Regions from separate parts of the Homo sapiens genome. Here regions 1 and 2 are each reported to be linked to region 3. The links are microRNA targets in miRTarBase. Many come from high-throughput screens and were not tested one by one. Region 3 holds a microRNA gene; each other region holds the end of a gene's coding sequence.

Evidence for each region. The annotated mature microRNA hsa-miR-339-5p reads UCCCUGUCCUCCAGGAGCUCACG and lies in region 3 at 2,707-2,729, shown strand. An mRNA with a match to its seed (bases 2 to 7 or 8) in the 3' UTR can be bound and repressed. Matches are read on the target gene's strand: a 7mer-m8 pairs with bases 2 to 8, a 7mer-A1 pairs with bases 2 to 7 and ends in A, and an 8mer does both.
Region 1: the mRNA of ZBTB8A is a reported target of hsa-miR-339-5p. Seed matches in the 3' UTR shown: 7mer-A1 at 5,271-5,277 and 7mer-m8 at 2,802-2,808.
Region 2: miRTarBase lists RNPEPL1 as a target of hsa-miR-339-5p. Seed matches in the 3' UTR shown: 7mer-A1 at 5,512-5,518 and 7mer-A1 at 5,448-5,454.

Annotation. Positions count from the first base shown.
Region 1 is chr1:32,598,944-32,606,123 of GRCh38, reverse strand. ZBTB8A (zinc finger and BTB domain containing 8A) reads right to left here. Exons shown (of 5, transcript NM_001040441.3): 5 at 183-6,037. The coding sequence ends at 5,705. Among named protein-coding and RNA genes, the nearest start is that of ZBTB8OS, 48 kb to the left of the region's middle.
Region 2 is chr2:240,576,755-240,583,946 of GRCh38, reverse strand. RNPEPL1 (arginyl aminopeptidase like 1) reads right to left here. Exons shown (of 11, transcript NM_018226.6): 9 at 7,182-7,192; 10 at 6,957-7,099; 11 at 2,575-6,348. The coding sequence ends at 6,055. CAPN10-DT (CAPN10 divergent transcript) reads left to right here. Exons shown (of 1, transcript NR_103792.1): 1 at 1-1,197. Among named protein-coding and RNA genes, the nearest start is that of CAPN10-DT, 6.0 kb to the left of the region's middle. RefSeq lists enhancers at 3,824-3,943, 4,441-4,735.
Region 3 is chr7:1,018,527-1,025,718 of GRCh38, reverse strand. MIR339 (microRNA 339) reads left to right here and starts at 2,693; the gene lies at 2,693-2,786. The region is part of intron 2 of CHLSN (cholesin); the gene reads left to right. RefSeq lists an enhancer at 2,025-2,582.

The DNA.
Region 1 (7,180 bases), not on the chromosome of region 3:
CACCCTCGGCAGGCATGAGATCCAGGCTGGTACCACCAGTGGACCACAGCCTGCCAGTCCACATGGGTGGAATGAGCCCAGCAGGCACAAGCAAAACCCAAGCAGAGGAGCCACCGGCCAAGAGGTTTCTGGCTGGTGGCAAAGCAACACCCTAAGGATCCTGTGACATAACTAAAGTCACATCCTTTACATAACATTTATTCCATATAGAATGTATCCACATACAATGACGTCAGCTTTAAAACAATCCACTGTTACTTATATAAAATCATCTATAAAATAGAGTGATACACAACACACCTCAGTGAATTAGGCTGATGGTCTAGGATTCAGAAAATGTGATCATTATATTTCCTATTTTTTGCTACCATTTCACTGGGTTGTCTTAGGTTCTTTTTTTTTTTTTTTTTTTTTTTTTTGAGGTGGAGTCTCGCTCTGTCACCCAGCCTGGAGTGCAGTAGCGTGATCTTGGCTCACTGCAACCTCCGCCTCCTGAGTTCAAGCAATTCTCCTGTCTCAGCCCCCAGAGTAGCTGGGATTACAGGTGCCCACCACCATGCCTGGCTAATTTTTGTATTTTTAGTAGAGAAGGGGTTTCACTATATTGCCCCAGGCTGGTCTCCAACTCTTGACCTAAAGTGATCCACCCGCCTTGGCCTCCCAAAGTGCTGGGATTACAGGTGTGAGCCACCACGCCTGACCCTGAGGTTTTTTTACTGTTCTGTGCCTCAATTTATTTACCGTTCATGTGGGATAACTGTCCTATTTCATATATATGTAAAGAATAACAAAAATTATTAAACACTTTGCAAATATAAAATGCTATATAAATGATAAATAGTAATACTGATACACTTATATAAAATAACAAAACTTTCTGGTTTATAATCTAAAGTTTGGTCCTCCTGTACCTATTATTCTATTATTATCACCCTTCCCAGTTAAACACATCTTTTTTTTTTTTTTTTTTTTTTTTGATGGAGTCTCGCTCTGTCACCCAGGCTGGAGTGCAGTGGTGCGATCTCGGCCACTGCAACCTCCACCTCCCGGGTTCAAGCGATTCTCCTGCCTCAGCCTCCCGAGTACCTGGGATTACAGGCACCCACCATCATGCCCAGCTATTTTTTGTATTTTTACTAGAGACGGGGTTTCACCATGTTGGCCAGGATGGTCTCGAACACCTGGCCTTAAGTGATCCGCCCGCCTCGGCCTCCCAAAGTGCTAGGATTACAGGCATGAGCCACCGTGCCCGGCCAGTTAAACACACCTTATCCTACACTGCTTTTAGTGATTTTCCATACTTATTAATTTTAGGACTAAAAAAAATTTTAAAAACCAATATGAGTGGAAATTTCAATATATCTTGGCATGACTTGGCAAAATAACTTTAATGAATTGAGTTCTGAGCTCATAAATAATTGAAGCACCAAACTTCTTTCATCCATTAGGCAGTACTTAGCCGTACAGAAAACAGTAACTATGCTTATTTTGATTGCATTACTGAAAATATAATATTGAAACATTTGTTCCTAAATTTTAAAAAGTCTTAAGATCTGATACCCATAGAAGGAACATCATGTGCTAAGGATGTGATTTGCTTCACTAAGAGACCATATGGTTACCTGCTTATAAGCACCGTGAGTAACAGGAGTAACGAAATGAGGCTGCAAGGCTCAAAGGGAATTCAGGAAGTTGTCTAATTCCATGGTTTTCAACATTGTGCACCTGAGTTCTGCAGAGGTGTCTGGGGAAAGGTTTGTGGGGGACTTTAACCACAGCAGCTCTGATTTTAGAGTTTATCCCTTAAATTTGAGCATCTTTAGGAAACAATTCATTTGAAGAGTTTCTCGGGTTAAATTATTTTAAACTGCAGGTCTAGTCCATTTTGTTTCTCCCAGACACTAGGCATGACTGCAGTGGTGCTTTCTTTTTGTAATGCTTCATCCTATACCCAGACACTCTTGAGGGTAATGGAGTTAGAAGGGCATTCAGAAGCTGATAAATGGCATTCCTGCAAGAGCAAACTTTGGTCTAACCAAGTCTTGATATTAAAAAAAAAATCCTTGGCATAAATAAAGCTTATTTAAACAGATTATACCCCTATGTAACATTTGCCCACATGTAAAAACCAAAGAATTCAATTTTCTCAATCATCAATAGACAGTTTCACTCTAGAAAATAACTGGTCTCTAACGTCTTAGATATATATGCTATAACTGGAGTCATTATTTACAACTTACAAACATGTCTTAAATGTTCTTCTATGATGTTAAAATGATACAACAGATTCTTTGTCTAGTTTGGTGAACTTGATCATTTTGTGGGGATAGTTTGATGCTCGTTATAAACAATTATGAGAAAGCATTATTTCTGAAAAGGCAATTACAAGTGCTGGTGGCACTGTGTTCAGTGAATGTTGGATATTCATGCTGATGTATGTAAAGTTTGCATGCAGAAGATAATAGCATAAAAGGACATTTAGATCATAGACTAAAGTGCATTAGAGTACACACATGCAAGCACTACTTCATTTATAGGAAAAAAGTTCAAATCAGCCATTTTTCCTACTGGCTCCAACAACTAAAAAATCAGGTTTTAATTTCAAAAGGTGTCAGTATTAATTGGGTAAGACTAGAGAATGACAAGCGTTTCCTTCCTCATTCAGATACACTTTAATTGTTAAGAATCCTGATTTAGGCCGGGCGTGCTGGCTCACGCCTGTAATCCCAGCACTTTGGGAGGCTGAGGCGGGCAGATCACGAGGTCAGGAGTTCGAGACCAGCCTGGCCAACATAGCGAAACCCTGTCTCTACTAAAAATACAAAAATTAGCCAGGCATGGTGGCACATGCCTGTAGTCCCGGCTACTCAGGAGGCTGAGGCAGGAGAATCGCTTGAACCCGGGAGGCAGAGGTTGTGGTGAGCGAGATCACGCCACTGCACTCCAGCTTGGACAACAGAGCGAGAGTCCATCTCAAAAAAACCAGAATCCTGATTTAGGAACAGCCATGTTGGGAGAACAGAGAACTCAATGCACATCATCCAGTCTTGAAGCAACTGCAAATGTGCCATCAGGGGAATCTTGAAAAAGTCTCAATTAAGTACCATGAAACAAGTGGTTATTCATCTATTTTTAAATTTTTTAAAAGAAAGTAACCAATTTAGCCTAGAAATTGGTATCAAGGACAATAATTAATGAAAGAACAAGAGAAAATAGTAACATAAAAAGGATAATTTTGAGGTATGTCATGGCATTTAAAAATACAGTAAAATTGGCTGGGCGCAGTGGCTCACGCCTGTAATCCCAGCACTTTGGGAGGCCGAGGGGGGCGGATCACGAGATCAGGAGATTGAGACCATCCTGGCTAACACGGTGAAACCCCATCTCTATTAAAAATACAAAAAATTAGCTGGGAGTGGTGGTGGGCGCCTGTAAGTCCCAGCTACTCGGGAGGCTGAGGCAGGAGAATGGCGAGAACCCGGGAGGTGGAGCTTGCAGTGAGCTGAGATTGCACCACTGCACTCCAGCCTGGGCGACAGAGCGAGACTCCGTCTCGAAAAAAAAACAAAAACAAAAAAGAAAACAGTAAAATAGATGGAGCCTCTCCATATACAGTGAAATTCTATCAAGCTTCACTGTGATAACTTGCAGAAGAGACCTTTATGAAGCTCAGTTCTTTACTTCGGATATTTAGATTTTACCTTTAGAACTGAAACAATGCTTCTCTAATTTAGCTGTAATTTTGGAATGTTTCATAATTTATGCAGGGGAGAAGTTTTTTTTTTTTTTTTTTTTGAGACGGAGTTTCGCTCTTGTTGCCCAGGCTGGAGTGCAATGGCGCAACCTCAGCCCACCGCAGCCTCTGCCTCCTGGGTTCAAGCTATCCTCCTGCCTCAGCCTTCTGAGTAGCTGGGATTACAGGCATGCACCACCACGCCCGGCTAATTTTGTATTTTTAGTAGAGACGGGGTTTCTCCATGTTGGTCAGGCTGGTCTCAAACTCCCGACCTCGGTGATCCACCTGCCTCAGCCTCCCAAAGTGCTGGGATTACAGGCGTGAGCCACTGGGCCCAGCCCAAAGGGGAGAAGTTTAAACTTTGTATACTAGGAGAAAAGTTTGTTTTGAAAATATTATATAAACAAGAGAAGCAAAAATGTTCAACATATTTAAGTGAATAATTTGTTCAAATAGTTTTATACTTTAAATTTACATATAAATAACGTGACATAAAAACATACCAATAGGTACTGTAGGGACATTACTTAGCATTATTTGAAAATCTCTAGATCAAGATATTGTATGTTGTTGAAAATGATTCAATTCCTCCTTTCATACTTTCTAATTCTGATTGGCTTATTTTTATAATGACTGCCAACTGGTGAGGTTTGACTTCTATTCTTTGCCATTTCAGGAGACATACAGGGAGAGAAGGCTGAAAGAGGATTGTTTAAAATCAGATCCTGTCCAATCATCAGTTTTCTCTCTCAGACTTTCTGACCTTAATTTCCTCATTTGTAAATCGGAGATAGTATCCACCTCACTGAGAAAATACATGAGAGAGTACTTTATAAATAATATAGCACTACATAAACGTTAGAAATCACTCACATATGGTAAGAACCTCCTAGTTTGTTTTCCTTTTTTTTTTGAGACGGAGTTTCGCTCTTGTTGCCCAGGCTGGAGTGCAATGGTGTGATCTCGGCTCACTGCAACTTCTGCCTTCCAGGTTCAATCGATTCTCCTGCCTCAGCCTCCCGAGTAGCTGGGATTATAGGCACCCGCCACCATGCCCGGCTAATTTTGTATTTTTTAGTAGAGACGAGGTTTCACCATGTTGGCCAGGCTGGTTTCAAACTCCTGACCTTGTGATCCGCCTGCCTCGGCCTCCCAAAGTATTGGGATTATAGGCATGAGCCACAGCGCCCAGCCTGCTTTTCTTTAGAGAGATGGACAACCATATTGACAGATTGTCTTCACAAACTACCTTGACTTTTAGGCAACATTAGTTTCCTGCTTTAAGAAAATATCTGTATATAATCTTTGGCCAGCCTCTACTTTTTTTTTTTTTTAACAATACTGAGAGTAATTTTTAAGCTAATGATAAAAATTTCAAATATGAATGATTTCAAACACTTTAGTCTTCTTCCATAATCCTTAAACGTTCAGGATATCAGAGTAATGACAGGTTGTTTCAGATCTCAAATTAATAGAAAGACTAATTTGTTTAGTAAGGTGGGTTGCCAGATCCTTAAATGTGCTCTTAACTGGTTCCCTGTGAAATTAAACATTGGTAGTTATGTGTTTTTGAAACACCTTGAAATTGTCTTACATAAAGTTTGGTTGTGGTGAATTTATTTAAAGTATTTTCTTTGAAAAAAGTTTGCTAAGTAGATCCTCCAATATTAAAAGAAAAAGGTATCTCTGGAATAAAGTAAGAGGATTGTAATGAAAGTAAGAGGATAATTGTTCATCCATCAAGCCAACTCAAGCTAGTTCTTTCTTTCCAGTGCAGCAACACATTTTAGGGCAACAAAGTTCAGAATGGATACAATGGCCTGTTCAGAAAGCATGCAAGTTATATCAGATCATTTCTTTAAAGTCAGTGTGATAAATTTGTTAACTAGACTCCGACCATAGAAAGAGAGAGATACAGGAAGTCAATGTAAATTGCAGACATGCCAGCTCTGTTGGTTCACATTACAGCTACCTAATGTTGGGCTTAATTTCTTTTTCTTCTTCTTCTTCACTATCATCAACCTGTTGGATGACCAGATCAGCAGACCCATCTTCTACAATCTCCACATAGGATCTATTCTCATCTTCACTCAAGTGCCATCTGGAATCCTTATCTCCATCTGATGGGGACATAAGATGTTGTTCAGCTTCCAAGTCAATGGGGAGGCTGTCTATGCCAAATTCTGCAAGACACTCATTACACAGTCTGTAGCGCCTGGTTCCCTCCTGTACCACTTGCCCTGTTAGATCTGTCACATGACGTTTACATTTTCTGCAGATGAGTTTACATGCCTGGTGAATCTGTGTAGAGATTTAAATAGTGATAAAAGTGATTTTTCAAAAGCAGGACAGTTTGATATTTTAGGTACCAGTTCATAAACTTAAGATGTTCAAAGCCATGCATTAAACTCAAATTAACATCTATTATTTAGAGAAAGATCAAGGGTTTTAGTGGTGAATTGATGTCACAGAAATATTAAACATCAGCTTTCTCTAAATAGTGGCTATCATGTTTTTTATTATTAATATGACATAATAATTTCACCTATCCCTTAATCCAATAGCATTTGGTATCTGAGGTAACTTCCTATGATAATAATAATTGCAAACACTATGTGCCATGTACTTATTTAATTATTTTTATTATTTATTTATTTATTTATTTATTTTTGAGACAGAGTCTCACTCTGTTGCCCAGGCTGGAGTGCAATAGTGCAATCTCGGCTCACTGCAACCTCCGCCTCCGGGGTTCATGCAATTCTCCTGCCTCAGCCTCCTGAGTAGCTGGTATTACAGGCACGTGCCACCACGCCCAGCTAATTTTTGTATTTTTAGTAGAGATGGGGTTTCACCATGTTGGTCAGGCTGGTCTCAAACTCCTGACCTCGTCATCTGTCTGCCTCGGCCGCCCAAAGTGCTGGGATTATAGGTGTGAGGCACCGCGCCCAGCATACTTTTTATTTTTAAAATAGGGTCTCGCTCTGTCACCCAGGCTACGGTGTAGTGGTGACCATGGCTCACTGCAGCCTCAGCCTCCCAGGCTCAAGCAATCCTCCCATCCCAACCTACCGAGGAGCTGGGACTACAGGTGCATGCCACCACACCTGGCTAATTAAAAAAAAATTTTTTATAGAGAAAGGGTCTCACTATGTTTTCCAGGCTGAACATATCTTAATTTGAGGTGGGGGCGGGGGGTGCAATCTCTCTTGTTTTGTGTATTAATTTTTTGTTATTTTACTAGAGAAAGAAAAATATTGCATAAATTTAAATTTATTAATATTTTAGATAGAAGGAGAACTTGCCATTTTTATTAATAAAAGATCTGGTGGAAAGAGGACCACAGGGATTGGAAGGGTTGGGGTTCTAGTTATTTACTATCTTCTTGGAGCAAGTAATTTAAAACATTATATAAACCTGCTTTAGGGTGACAGTTAAAATATTTAA
Region 2 (7,192 bases), not on the chromosome of region 3:
CCCTGGCCTCCTCAACTGCAGGCTCTTGGTCTGAAGTACTGTAATTAAAGTATGAGAGCCTCGGGGCCCTCACTTCAAGGAGGGAAGAGCATCCCCATGCCTCAGCGTTTGGGGATTGTAGGGAGATGAGAGTCCTTCAGGTGGGACTAGTTCCCGCCATGACCCCACTGCTGGCCAGTGGCCTGAAACGCATCTGACCACTTCTCAGGTTCATGGGTGTTGAGGAGGAGCCCTGTGGAATCAACCCTGTCTGCCTCCTCTTATCCTGCCACTCCTCTTGCTCTGTCTGGATGACTGCCCTTGTTTTTCAAGGGAATGTTCCCTGTCTTCCTCAGCCAGGATTTTTTCTGAACTTGACATCTCCGTTTGTTCAGGGGGCAATCATTGGGCACTTCACTGTGCTGGTCCTTGCATTCTCATGGAGATGCAGAGATTAAAAATTAGTATCTTGTCCACATACTGCCCAGAGTTAGCAAGGATTGCTTTTCTGTGGATTTGTCTCAGGTCGGGCACAGTGGGGGTAGGGTCCTTCTCGAACCTTTTCCTAGCCTAAAGGTTCCAGCTGAATCTTCCCAGGCAGGGCTGAAACAGGAACCATTTTAGGCTTTGCTGCAACCCATGGTCAGTTCTCCAAGAAAAGTGAAGAGGGTTCCACCTGGGGCAGCCCTCAAGGGCTCAGAGGGCCAAAACACACGTACAACATGTTGAGACACTGAGTTTGTGCGATCCCCACACATCTCAGCAGTGAGTATTTCTGCCTCATTTTACCGATGAGGAACCTGAGCTTCAAAGGGAAGAGGTGACAGCTCAGGACCACACAGCTGTAGGTAGGAGGCAGGAAAATAGGGTCTGAGTGCAGGGAACATAGGCTGATTCACACTTCAGTTATGATAGGAAATACCTTCTCCATAGGACATAGGCCAAGCAAATGACTTTGTAACTTCATCCTCTCCATCTGCATAACGTGTGCCCCAAGTAACCAATGGAATCACCTAGAGGGTGTTTAAACTCTCAGAAGTTCTGTAACAGGCTCTCCATCTACATAACGTGTGCCCCAAGTAACCAATGGAATCACCTAGAGGGTATTTAAACTCTCTGAAGTTCTGTAACAGGGCTTTTGTGCTCCTATGCTCAGGCTCACCCCCACACTGTGGAGTGTACTTTCATTTTCAATAAATCCCTTCATTCCTTCTTTGCTCTCTGTGTGTGTTTTGTCCAATTCTTTATTTAAGACGCCAAGAACCTGGACATCCTCCGCTGTTAACAGTAGGACGCATCAACTCCTTAGAGTTGGGGCAGCCAGCATAAAAGGAGGCTGACCTCAGCCCGCTTCATTTACTGCAACGTGAGGAATGGATTCTTTGTTGGCAATATTTTAGATTGAGCTTTTTTTCTCATTATAATACATGCTTAGTAAACAGAGTGGGAATAAATATGGTACATGCTCCTCCTTATAGGAATTTTTTTCCTAACTCTTTGTATGAAGTGGTTTTGTGTTCTTCAACTTTATTGTGAGGATTATGCAGATAGTTTGCACAGTTGACTAGTTATCTGAGGGGAGCATATTTTGGATGTGGGCTATTTTCTGCATTGTGGGTGTTGTATTCCCTCCACACTGGAATTTTTCTGTTTGCTCATTCATTTGGAACAAGGAGAGGTTTATCTGGGCCTGGCTGGATGGGTGGGTGGGTGGTAGTGATCTCCTTAGCACTCTGCCTGTGCCTGTTAAAAGCCCCTCGGATCTGTGCTGGGCCTGGCCACTCTGTGGACACCCTTGCCAAGCTCCACCTTTAGCTGGCATGTCCGTGCTCTTGGGCTTCTCTCTGACCAGGTGATTATTCCGAGAGATGGGGGGTGGGGGGGAGCGGAGACTAACAGCTGACATCAGATTCCTCTTAGTAAAAGGACAGTCTTTGTTAGGAAAAACATCTTGGTGGGTGCTTGAGTAAGAGCCCTGAGGGCATGGCTAGTTGAGGTGGCTTAGCTTGCAGGATGTGAAGGTCTGATGGGAAGGGAAGAGAGATGTGGGGGAGAAAATGGCTGAAGAAATGAGGCTGAGTTGCGGGGTGGGGGCAGATGAAGGGCCATGGAGGGGACCCCTGGAGGGTAGAATGCAGGCAATGTTGAGAATGAGGATGCCTTGATTGACTGGAACTTATTTTTTTTTTTTTTTTACTCTCCACGACCTAATATCCCCAAGTGCATTTTCTGTTCCTATAACAATACCACGGACTGGGTAATTTATAATGAAAATAAATGTATTTCTTATAGTTCTGGAGGCTGGGAAGTCCAAGGGCGAGGGGCTGGCATCTGGTAAAGGCCTTCTTGCCACACCATTCCATGGGGGAAGATGGAAGAGCAAGAGGACACACAGCAAGAGACAGCTAAATTCATTTTTACAACACATGCTCATGATAACGAACCCACTCTGATAATGACATTAATGCATTCATCAAGGCAGAACCCTCATGGCCTAATCGCTTCTTAATGGTTCCACCTCTTAATACCATCACAATGGCAATTAAATTTCAACATGAATTTTGGAGGGAACATCCAAACCAGAGCACTGTTGACTGAGTTTTCATTTTTTATTTTAGTAATTGCTTTTTAAAAAATTTCCAGGGTCTCTGACTGGTTCTTTTTTATAAACTACCTGTTCTTGTTTCATAAGTGCCTCTTCATATGTTATGGTTTATTTCAAAAGTCGTCTTTAGGTCTGAGATTTTGATTATATGTGTTCTAAAGTCCTTTTCTGATTTTTCTGTTGCCTCTGTCTCAGGTGTAAGTTTGGGTTGAGTGGCCTGTTTTCCTTCACACTGTGTTGCTGCCCTGGGCAGGTGATTCTCAGTTGTGCCTTACCTTTACATCTGGAGTTTCCTAATGTTCTGTGCAAAGCATCTGGCCTTAGGAGAGAAACACCACCAATAAGTCCCAGTTAGAGTAGGGATGGCAGAGAAACACTCTGGGAGACAAGTCTGGACTGAACCTGTCATGGCCTGAGGGACTTAGAAAACCTTATTTGGACCTCCAGGGCCTAGAAATTTGCATGGGTCTCCTTCACTGTTTTTTCAGGCTTCAGCTTTCTAATCTATCTCTGTAGAAACCAGTCTTTCATCACGCTTCTTTTCCCTTTTTGAACATCATCTCCTACCTGCCTGACTAGGCCCTAATCCCCAAAATGCAGATCTCTCTCACATTCTGGCCTCAGCTCCGTCGTTGTCATTAGTGCTGTTTGCCATCTGCCCCCGCTTTTGTGCATATGGTGGGGTTGCAGCCCCTGTGGTTGTAGGCCCCTTAGAACTTCCACTGCCAGTGTGAGCCCCTCAACAGCTCTCTTATCCCTGGCAAGGTGCCTGGAAACATTTGAGATCTCTGTTCATCGGTACGGGTCCGAGAGTGGTCACATTGAAGAGAATCCCCCCTTCCCCTGCCAGCCTGAGGTGGGCCTGCAGCATGAGAAAGCTTTGTTGTGTGAGACGTCTGCGCTTCATAGTTGTGTGGCTGGAGCATAACGTGGCCTAATAGAGAAGCTGGCCGCTAGGAGAGGGGTGCTGTGCTAATAAAACGTGCGACCTGCCAGGATTTGGAATGTGGGCAGGCTGTTAGGTGGGGCAAAACATTTGGTAAAGCTCAACTGGGATGACTCATGAGGCAGACCGTGAGCTAAGTGTGCGTATCTAGTGGAGAGGTTGGGAAACAACACTGGCCTGAGTATCGGCCGGAGGCTGCATTGGACAAGGGACTGCAGGGAAGCGACGAGCTAAAAAAAAATTCTGCACTTGCAAGCTGGGTGGAAGAGGAACAAAGGTCAGGAACACAAGGACTTAGGGCTGAAAGAGCCCTCCTGTGTACCCCACGGGCGGGCACAGAGCCAAGACAGATTGTGGTGAGGGTGCCATCCTGGATCCAGATGCCCTCCTGCCCCCAGGGTCATGACGCTGGGCACTGCTGCTGAGTTTCCCAAAGCCAGGTGTCAGGCACAGGTGCGCAGCTCAGCAGCGTCCGGAGGTGGCGCTGTGGGCGTGGCTGTAGGCACGTGGAGTGGAGTCACCCGCAGACCACAGAGTCATTTCGAGAGCTGAATTGCAAAAGAAAGAAGAGCCCAGGATGAAAGTCTGTGACTGCTGGGACTTGAAAACAACCTTGGCGGGGAAGAGGCTGAGAAAGCAGTTCTGCCACTGAGCAGGGCTCCTTTGAGGACACCATCAAGCATGGTTAAGAAACAGGAAAGGGGTCCTCCCAAGGCTGGAGCCCCAGGCCACAGAGAACATGACTTGGGGGAGTGGGGTGTCCACTCCCAGGCAGGGGCCCTAGCTGTGCCTGCCTGGCAAGACTTTAGATGGCCATGCAGCAGGGGCTGCCAGGTGCCCTCCATACCCGCTTTCACAGGGGTTACTGCAGTCATCCTATCCCTGGGTGTGAGGGGCAGTGGCAGTCTTCTAGTTCCTAGGTCTCTGGATGGGGTGGCGCCTCCCCCAGACCTGATGTGAAGAAGGTACATGAAGCAACACATGTAGAGACGGCCCCAGACCCTAGACCAGAGTTGCCACCGCCACTGGAGGGGACTCATATGTCCTTGGGAGGGGAGGGGAGGGGCGGGGCATCCAGAACAGGAAGGAGGGTGAGTGGGACATTTGGTGACTGGGGACTGGACAGTGATGGTATCAGGGTTATTTGCCCAGCACCTCCTGCCCTCCCCACTTCCTGGCTGCCATGTGTGGAGTGGGGCTGTGACTGGGCCTGGCCAGCGGGTTGGGAGAAGAGACGTGCTGCTTCTGGGCCACGGCATGTTGGCCAGGTGTGCGTGGCACTGAGATGGTGGCGCCACATCCTTGGGGACTGTGAAGGGCAGCGACACCTATCGCCTGGGAAAATGGAAATCTCAGTTCTCCAAAACAAAACATGCCTGTCACCTTGTACCCATCTTGGGAAAGGATCACCACTGAGGCCGGGATTTGGCTTAAGCCACAGGTGAAGGCCCAGAGTGAAGGTGACACATGGCTTTCCTGTGACATCCAGAGGCTACTCAGGCCCAGGGGGTCCAGCCAAGGGGCTGGGCAGGATTCGGGGAGCCTGCTCTCGGGCTTATGTATCAGAGGAGGGGGCCACACCCAGCTCCTGACCAGCTCCAGGCCCCAAGTCCCGGCAGGCCAGCCCACCCTACACAGCCAGGAAGATGCAGAGGACAAGAGTCGCGAGAAAGAGCGCAGGAGATCAGGTTTGCAGAGTGGAAGTTTAATGGGACCATCACCGTGATACCCCATCACAGCAGTCCCAGGCTGGAGGCCCCAGGCTCTGGCCGCCTCTCCCAGCATGGTGGGCCTGGAGAGAGCACCAGCACCACCTCCCACTTTCCCTGGGGTATTGCTTTGCCCCTGTGCCTCCCACCCCAGGAAGCTACAAGAGACAGGCTGTCCTGTCCCCACACTCTCCCTGGGTCCTGGGACTCCCTGTTCTGAGGGGCTAAGGTTGCCTGGGGCCAGAGGGCCCTCCCCAGGGACAACCATCCTCTCCCTGTGTCCCCTGCCCCCCACACTGAGGGAATGTCTGTGTCCTTGTTCCTCTGCCAGGGGCCAACTGAGGCTGCCAACCCCAGGGGCGGGGTGCAGGGCTGTGCGGGGAGGGTGGCTCAGATCCCTGCAAGGAGGCGTGCTGCAGGGACAGCACAGCCTGGGCCCCCGGCAGACATTAAGGCACAGTGTGGCGGTCACCATAGGGCTGCTGGGGCCCTTGCCCCGGGGCGGCACCTGGCAGGTGCTGGCATCCGGGGCTAGGCACAGCTGTCAGTGTTGAGACAGGAGGCATGGTGTGTGCGGGCTGGCCCCAGGGCCTGCAGTGCAAGAGAGCTGGGAGTGGGGAGGCCAGGTCCACAGGTCTCTGCCAGACACAAGGAGGTCCCTCTCCCCATTCTCCCTGCCTGGGAGAGCCCAGGGGAGGGGCTTGTGGGCCTGGGCAGAGCTCATGGCCAGAGCCGAGACGCAGTCATGGCAGGCCTGGCCCACAGAAGGCACAATTGTGGTGTCTGGGAGGTCGAGGGTCAGCCCGCCAACAGGGCTAGGCAGACACATTGACGTCCCTGAGAGAGATGGCACTGCTGGGGGCCTCGTCCCCAAGCAGCAGGGCCTGTGCGTCCGAGTCTGTGTCTGCTTCAGCCTTGCCCAGCTCCGTGCTGGGCTCTGAGGCGGGCTCTGTGCTGGAGCCCAGGCCCTGGGACAGGATCTGCTGGATGGCTCTGCGCAGGTTGGGGTGCAGCCGGCCCTGCGTCTGGTAGAAGACCTCCAGCGCGAAGGACTTGAGGGCACCGGTGCAGAGGTCCTCGTACAGCGGGATGGTGTACATGCGTGACATCTGCAGGAGGGGCACTCGGTCACACTGGTGGGCTCCCCAGGCCCCTCGAGCCAGCCCACCCTGCCAGCCCGGCCAGGCGGCCCTCCTGCCCCTGGCTTCCCAGCTTCATCATTAGGGCTGTGGCCTGGACTCCGGTGGCCAGGAGGCCTACCATTAGCCTCCCACCTCCACCCTGCCCTTCCAGGCCAACCATGGAGGCCCCATCTCCAGGGAACCTGGGCTGGAGGGAGCACATACAGGGAGCAGGGCAGCCAGGGCCCACGGGCCTGAGGGCTCTGGCCTCCCTCTGAGGAGCTGGGACGTCCCCTCTGCCCAGACCAGGACGCTGAAGGCCCAGGGCCCAGCAGGCTGTGGTGGCCTGGACCCTAAACTCCTGCTCCCAGCTGGTCCCTTCCACAGTTTCTCCAAGAACTGGTGGAGTCCAGGCTGCCCTCTGGTACCTGCACCCGGTGCATGCCCCCACTCCCAACAGACCCCTACGTCTTCCCCGCCCCATTCTCCAGAATGTGCCTGGCCTGCCCCAAGGGCTCAGACTAGGGAGTCGGGTGGGACTCCCAGTCCGCACGGCTAGGCCGTTCCAGGCTGGCCCCCTGGGCAGGTGACCGCACCTGGCTCTCCAGGAAGCGCCGCACCCTGTGGAGGTCAGGATAGTAGTCGTTGCGGACCACAATCTGCAGCCAGCGGATGCGGATCTCAGCGTTCATCGAGTCCAGCAGGGAGGAGTAGCACTTGGACAGGCTCATCACCACCTCTGCAGCGCAGGGGGCAGGTCAGGGCTGGGCCGCTGTTGCACCCCAGCCCCTGGGCCGCCCCCATCAGCTGCAGGGACTCACCCTGCGGCAGC
Region 3 (7,192 bases):
CCACGCAACCTCTACCGGTGCTGAGGGGTTACAAAGCTCTGTTACCAGCCCCATTCCTCCTGGATGGGCGAGGTCGGTCCGTATCACACCCCCAACCTCTTGTGCTCTGCGACCTCAGAATACACGGAGCTGTGTCCACAGGCCTCAGCGGCTGTGAGCCCCTCGCCTACACTGGGGGGTCCTCAGCTGACACCTGAGCCAGTGTCCTGTGCCCCAGTGGTGCCAGGGCAGAGTCCCCCTCCCTGACCTGACTTGTGCACCTCGTCACCCACCGCCAGCAGTGTCCCCCCACAACAGGCTTGCTCAGTACAGCACCCAACCCAAGTCCCCAGCACCCACACCCCAGTGAGTTTCCTGTGCCCTATAGGCTCAGCTGCTTCTCGTCCTCCCCCCACTTGGGATCCTTGGAACAGGGAGTGGTTCTTATTTAGGTCCCTGAGGTACCAAGCACAGGCTTTGCTCTTAGCAGCCGCCACTCCAGTGATGAAGCCGTTAGCAGACTGGCCTCTGCAGAGCTCTGCGGGGAGGTGCCTGGCTTCTCCGGCCTCCACCCTGGCCCAGAGCTGCCTCCTGAGCAGCGGATCCCAACCTGCCTGCCCCTGGGGCTGGGTCTCCAGCAGTCAGGACTGAGTTGTTGCTAGCTGCTGACAGGTGTGGGGCGAAGGGGGCGCATTTGCCGCATGTCCCCATTGGCAGCATCTCCACGCCTTCCCTTGTGACACCTCCAACCAGAATAGAGCAGGTATGTGGGAGCCCGCACCTGCTCCCCCAGCGCCCCGGGGTCGTCTTCTGCCTGCTCCTTCTGTCCTCCACACTGAAGAGTGTGCTCCAGCTGGGGATGGGCATGTGTGACGCTGGGGAATGGATACCTGTGAAATGGTGGAGTGTGCATCAAGTCTAAATAGCCGCTCGCAGGATCTGGGGGCTTTTTGTTTTCAGAAACCTGATCTGATCTTTATAAAAAGTGCTCCCCCACTCAGTCAGCCTGGGTGTCCCTCCCGTCCAGGCCAGCAGCGCTGTCTGGCTCGGCAAGGAGGGGCTGAAACTGGAGAGCCCCTGGGAAGGCTCTTGTGGGCCAGGTGGCAGCGGGGAGGGTGGCTCTTGTTCCCCGCCCTCATCCTAGCGTTCAGCAGACTGCCCCACACCACAGGTTTCCATTTTCACCCTTGGGTTAAGAGAAAAGCAGAAATAAAAAGTTTCTAATGTTGCTTGCGAAATTCAGCACTGGCCACCAAAGGCACCTGGGGCTTCTGCGTCTCTCTTGTCCCCTGGGGCTCCTGCGTCTCTCCTGTCCCATGGGTCCGTTTCTTGCTGTTTATTGCAACCCGCCTACATCGTTGGTGTGTGCAGCTGAACTCAGGCTGTTTAGGAAGCCCACGGGCAGGGCTCTGTGGGGCCCATTCCTGGTCCCACGTCTCTGGCAAGGGCTCCTCTTGAGCTGAGGCTTCTGAGCTCCTGCAGGCGGGAGTAGGGAGGCAGGTCCCACTGTCAGCCAAGCTGCAGGGTTTTTAGGAAGAAAGTGGGGGCTGTGCACCGTGGGCTCACACCTATAATCCCAGCACTTTGAGGCTGGCCGGAAGGATCGCTGTGGCCCAGGAGTTTGAAAACTCATGCCTATAATCCCAGCACTTTGGGAGGCCGGCAAGGAGGATCACTTTAGCTCAGGAGTGTGAGAGCAGCCTTGGTCCTATCTCTATAAAAAATTTAAAAACTGGCCAGGCATGGTGGCACATGCCTATAGTCCTGGTTGCTTGGGAGGCTGAGGTGGGAGGATTGCTTGAGCCCAGGAGGTCGAGGCTGCAGTAAACTGTGATGGTGCCGCTGCAGTCCAGCCTGGGCCACAGAGCAAGACCGTGTATCAAAAGGAAAGGGCTGCTGTGGAAGGGCCTCCAGTCCCCTGGCCTGGGCTGCAGGGGCCGCTGCTCCAGCCCTGCCTTCTACATGTGCCGAGATGTGAGCAGTCACCCCTGGAGATCCTCACCCCTTCTCTGTAGAACGAGGAGTTGGGCTGCCAGGGATTGGGGTCTGGGCGCGTTGCTGGTGTGTGTGTGTGTGTGTGTGTGTGTGTGTGTGTGTGTGTGTGTGTGTGTGTGTTTCCTGGGAGGAGGCCCCCACAGTCTTCGTCATGTTCTCCAGGGCCCAGTGGGAAGGAGTTGGAAGTTGGATGGAGAGAAATGTGGAGTAGGGCAGGAACCTCCTTCCTAGGAAGGAGCCTGCGGGGGACCCTGCAAGGGGTCCCAGGTTCCCAGGAGGCCTCGGGTGTGCTGTCAGAGGGGCGCTGGGGCTGGGAGTCTGTCCATGTCTTCAGCCTGGGTCTCGTGAGTTCAGGGAGTTTGAACCTGGGTGGAGAATGAGCCCCTGTGCGTCTTCCCTAACCTCCAGCTGACACGAGCTTCCGCAGACCCCGCGGTGGCGGGTGTGGGCGCTCCCCGTGCCATCTGTTGGGGACACCTCACACATCACTTGCGCTCAGCCCGTGTCGCGGCTGCAGGAGCCACCAGACCTTGTAAATACTCGGATGCCCACATCTGCTCGTCTGTGTCTCCCTGTGGCTGTGCATCAGACCTCACGCGTTTAAAACGTCCTTCTGAGAAGGGGCCACAGGCAGGTGCCACCCATTGCCACGGCACCATGGCAGGAAGCGTCCCATGCTCTGCAGGGGTGGCAGGAAGCGTCCTGTGCTCCGCAGGGGCGGGGCGGCCGCTCTCCCTGTCCTCCAGGAGCTCACGTGTGCCTGCCTGTGAGCGCCTCGACGACAGAGCCGGCGCCTGCCCCAGTGTCTGCGCCGGGACCATGGAGTGGCCAGCTCGCCGCGGAGACGTCGCCGCGCTTTGTAGCAGCCCCTGGACTCGTATGCGTGGGTCTTCTGATGCAGTGTGTTTTATTCGGTATCAACATGGAAGGGGGAGAGCATGGGATGTTCCACTGGTGTCCTAGGGAGGAAGTAACTGGGGAGGGAGGACGGTTGGGGGGGATTCACCTTTAAAGAATTTGAGAGCTTGTTTATTTTGCAGAATAAGAGTAAATTAATCCCCTGTGTGTTTCTGATCATTAAGAAGACCACATCGATGCTGTTGGTTGTGGGACTGTCATTTCAGAGTCCGGATCCGAATGTGGTCCTGGCTACTCTGCGAGGGTTGCCGTGGGAGGAGGTGGTGGAGGGCACGTGGGCGTCCCGTGTTCCCTCACGACGGCCGTCACCTGCGATTGCGTTAAAATAAAAGGCTTAATTTAAAAAACTCTTGTTTCTCAGAAAAAGCAGTTTACTACTGTGAGTTAACGCCGTGGGATTCTAATAATTGAGGTGACAAATCTGATTAAGGTTTTCTTTAAATTGGAACAGAATCCGTACGGGTGCCCCATGAGAGGGCTGTGGGACGTGGGACCAGGCTCCTGACCTTGGAACCCCTGGGTGGGGTCTGAGGCGATGCAGGAGAAAGAGGAGCTCGTGGTCCAGGAGGCGCCCGTGGGTGGGGACATGCCTCCCCGCAGGCCTGCGTCTGTCCTCGTGGGACGGGGCCAGGCTTCTGGTCCTTCCCTCCTGAGCTGCCGTCACCACCGTGGCTCACGAACAGTGCAGCGGGGCTCCTGGTGGTCTGCGAGCAGACTCCGGTGGACTCAGGGTTGGTTGCCCTGTCCAGGGGGCCTCGAGTGCTCCAGGACATGGCCTGTCCGATGTGGCCCAGGCGCCACGCCTGTGGGCCGTCATCGCTGTCACCTGGGTGTGCCGAGGGACTTGGGCTTTCCTGCCACCCCCGCGGAGGATCGAACCTTGTGACCCAGGCCGAGGGAGCTGCCCTGGGTGCCCCTCAGGCTCCTGCTCCCCAGGACTCAGTTTATACCCCAAAACCCAGCCTCGCCCCGCGGAAGGGCGCGCATCCCAGTGTGTTTCCCTGTGCCAGGCACAGTTCTCGCTGGGCGGGTATTTTTGCCGCATGCTTTCTTTTAGTGCGCTGTTTGTGTATGGTTGTTGGTGAGCTGTGGTTTCTGTCTGGTGACAAGTAGGGAGGGGTTAGGGGGGTGGTGTCCTGCCTCCAGCCGACCTGCCGGGGTTCCCAGAGGGCACTGCGGTGGCAGCAAAGCCAGTCACACTGGGGCTGGCAGATTGTCCCTCTCCCATCCAACAGCATGGGGAAATGATTGATGACTGACAGCTGCTGAAGCCCTACTCCTGTGCGGTGGATGGACAGTGCTCCCTGGGGTCCCAGCTCCAACTACTGGCATCTTGTCAAAGCAGCAGCCCAGGTGGCCACCACTGCCGATCAGACTTAATGGATGAAGACAGGAAGGCTGGGCAGAGCCCTTCAGCTTCCGACTCTGGTTCAGTCACTGAAATCCGCAATATCATCTCTGTCAAGGTCAGGTCCTACTGCCACGATGAAAAGGCTTCTGGGGAAGAAGAAAGAAACCTGCCCCATGGGTGCCAGCCTGGAGGTCCACACTAGAGGTCCCTGCTGGGAGATCCTCAGCCTGGAGGTTCCCAACCTGGGGGTCCGTGCTGGGAGGTCCCCAGTCTGGAGGTCCCCAACCTGGAGGTTCTTAACCTGGTGATCCCCAACCAGAAGGTCCCTACTGGAATGTCTCCAGCCTGGAGGTTCCCAACCTGGAGTTCCCTGCTGCGAGGTCCCCAGCCTGGAGGTGCCTGCCTGAAGGTCCCCAGCCTGGAGGCCCTGCTGGGAGGTCCCCAACCTGGAGGTACCTGCCCGAAGGTCCCCAGCCTGGAGGTACCTGCCTGAAGGTCCCCAGCCTGGAGGCCCTGCTGGGAGGTCCCATCTGAAGGCTCCACCTGGTGGTGTCTTTCGTAACCCCAGTCCCCAGCTCTGCTGTATCAGGACGTTACAAACGGCCTGATTGCCCCCAAGAAAGTCGAGGGGTCCTGACCCCTGCACTCCTCCGTTTCACACAGCCTGGGGAGCCCAGAGGAGCAGGACATCCAAGGCCCAGGCCGTCTGCAGGGGTGGTCAGCAGACGGCAGTGATGGGCTGGTGTCTGCCCCTGAGATCAGAGGTGAACAGGAATGGGAGCCTCTGTTTCCTGCAGGTCCTCCCTGCTCGGGAGGTGGGTTCGGTAAGGGCTGGGTTTACTGTCATTCATTTCCTTACATCATCTTGGTCTTAGCTGTGTGAGACTAGCTGTCCCTGCAGTCTGGGAGGGGTTGGCCTGTTCCCCAACCCGCTACAGCCCCCTTGTGTGTGGTATCCGCCAGACATATCTCGATAGTGGGGGCTCCAGGTGGGGGCGCCGAGGGGCCCTTGGGTGGAGACGCAAGATGGGGCAGCGGCTGGCGAGAAGCGAACCTAGGGGGCTCCTCTCTGGGGCCCAGGAAGAGTTCTTGGAGAGGCTGTCCTGGCTCTGACAGGAGAGCGGGCCTCCCCTTTGGTGGGCGTGCTGGGCGGGGCCCCAGGCTGCAGGAGGACTGTGATGGGAGCAAGGGGTGCCCCCTCTCTCAGGGAGCCCCAGGAGGGCAGAGGCTGCAGCGCGTGTTCACAGGACGGGAGCATGAGGGAATGCACTCCGCGGCGTGGGAAGAAACAGTCGTGGGGACCAGGGCATCGCACGCGGGGCCTGCCGCATCCATGCACTGCTGGGCCTGGTGCCCGTGTTCCCGCAGAGCAGCAGACACCACCACTCCGCCGGCCCTTGGATCTCTCCTCAGTGGGAAGAGAGGCTGGGGACGGGCCGGCCACCTGCCGCCTCGCTGGACTTCTGCCCTGGGATTCCTGAGACGAGAGCCGAGCGTCCTAAGCTGCCCTCGTCCAGGTGCCCCGTGGCCTCCCTCGGGAAACGCACTGTAGCTTGGCCTCCGGGCCGCGGTCAGTGCCTGCGGGCCTCTGGGTCCAGGCTGTGGGAACTGTCCACTTCCTGGGAGGGCAGGAGTGAGAGACCTGAGTGGGTGACCCCAGGCAGCCCCAGCCCCCCACACTCCATCAGGAGAAGAGGGGTCAGGGCCACAGCCAACCAGTCTCCGCTTCCTGCTTGCTTCCCACCGCCTCTGCCCATCTGGAAGCCCTGGCTGCAGTGGGGGCCCTCCTCGTGGTGATGGGCCTGGAGGTTCTTGGCGGCCACTGGAGCTTCCTGCAGCCACTAGGCCTGCGCAGCCTCCCCTCTGCCCACAGGGCAGCCCCACGGCCACCTCCGCTCTGTGGTTTGCCTTCTTGGACTCAGGGCTTCACTGTTTTGAAAAGCCCGGGTGCTGCAGTGAGGACCCCGCTCCGCATTTCTGCCGGGAGCTGTGAGCAGCCAGGCCAGCCTCCTCACGGTGCCAGGAAGCCTCTCCTTCTGGCCCAGAGCAGCAGCTGCCCCTTCCAGCATTGACCGTGGGTGATCAACAACCTGGCATGGGGGCAGGATTTTCCCTATAGAACCATTGAACAACACGGACCTGTCAGCTCAAGGTACCTTCTGGCTTTGCAGGTGGCTAGAGATCCATGCAACCACAGGTGGGCCTGGTTGGGCCCCTCCAAACCCTCACCCTCTTCCTCCCTCCCTTTCACTCCCCCCCCCCCGTTTTTTTTTTTTTTTTTTGAGACAGAGTCTCACTCTATTGCCCAGGCTGGAGTGCAATGGCGCGATCTTGGCTTACTGCAACCTCTGCCCCCCGCGGGTTCAAGCAGTTCTGCCGCAGCCTCTCGGGTAGCTGGGATTACAGACGTGCACCACCATGCCCGGCTAATTTTTGTATTTTTAGTAGAGACGGGGTTTCACCATGTTGGCCAGGCTGGTCTCGGACTCCTGACTCAGATGATCCACCCACCTCGGCCACCACGCCCGGACCACTCCCCAGTTCTTGACAAGTCTGCAGTTCCTGCACTGTCCTAGACTATGGAACACCTGGGAGGGACAGAGAGCTTGTCCTGGGACCACCAGCTGGACGAGCCTATCACCCACCCCCGAGGTAGAAGACCTGGGGCGCAGCCCTGATCTATTGATTTTTTTTTTTGAGGGTCTCACTCTCATCCAGGCTGGGGTACAGTGGTGTGATCACAGCTCACTGCAGTCTCGAATTCCTGGGCTCAAGCCAGCCTCCCACCTTGGCCTCCCAAAGCACTCAGATTAACATGTGTGAGCCAGTGCACCTGAGCTCCACCCTGATTTACATAAAGACCACACTCTGGGCTGGACCCCACCCGCCCGCGTGCACACCTCAGCTGGAGCCCACGCCAGGTGCCTGCTCCCACTGGGCAGGAAGTGC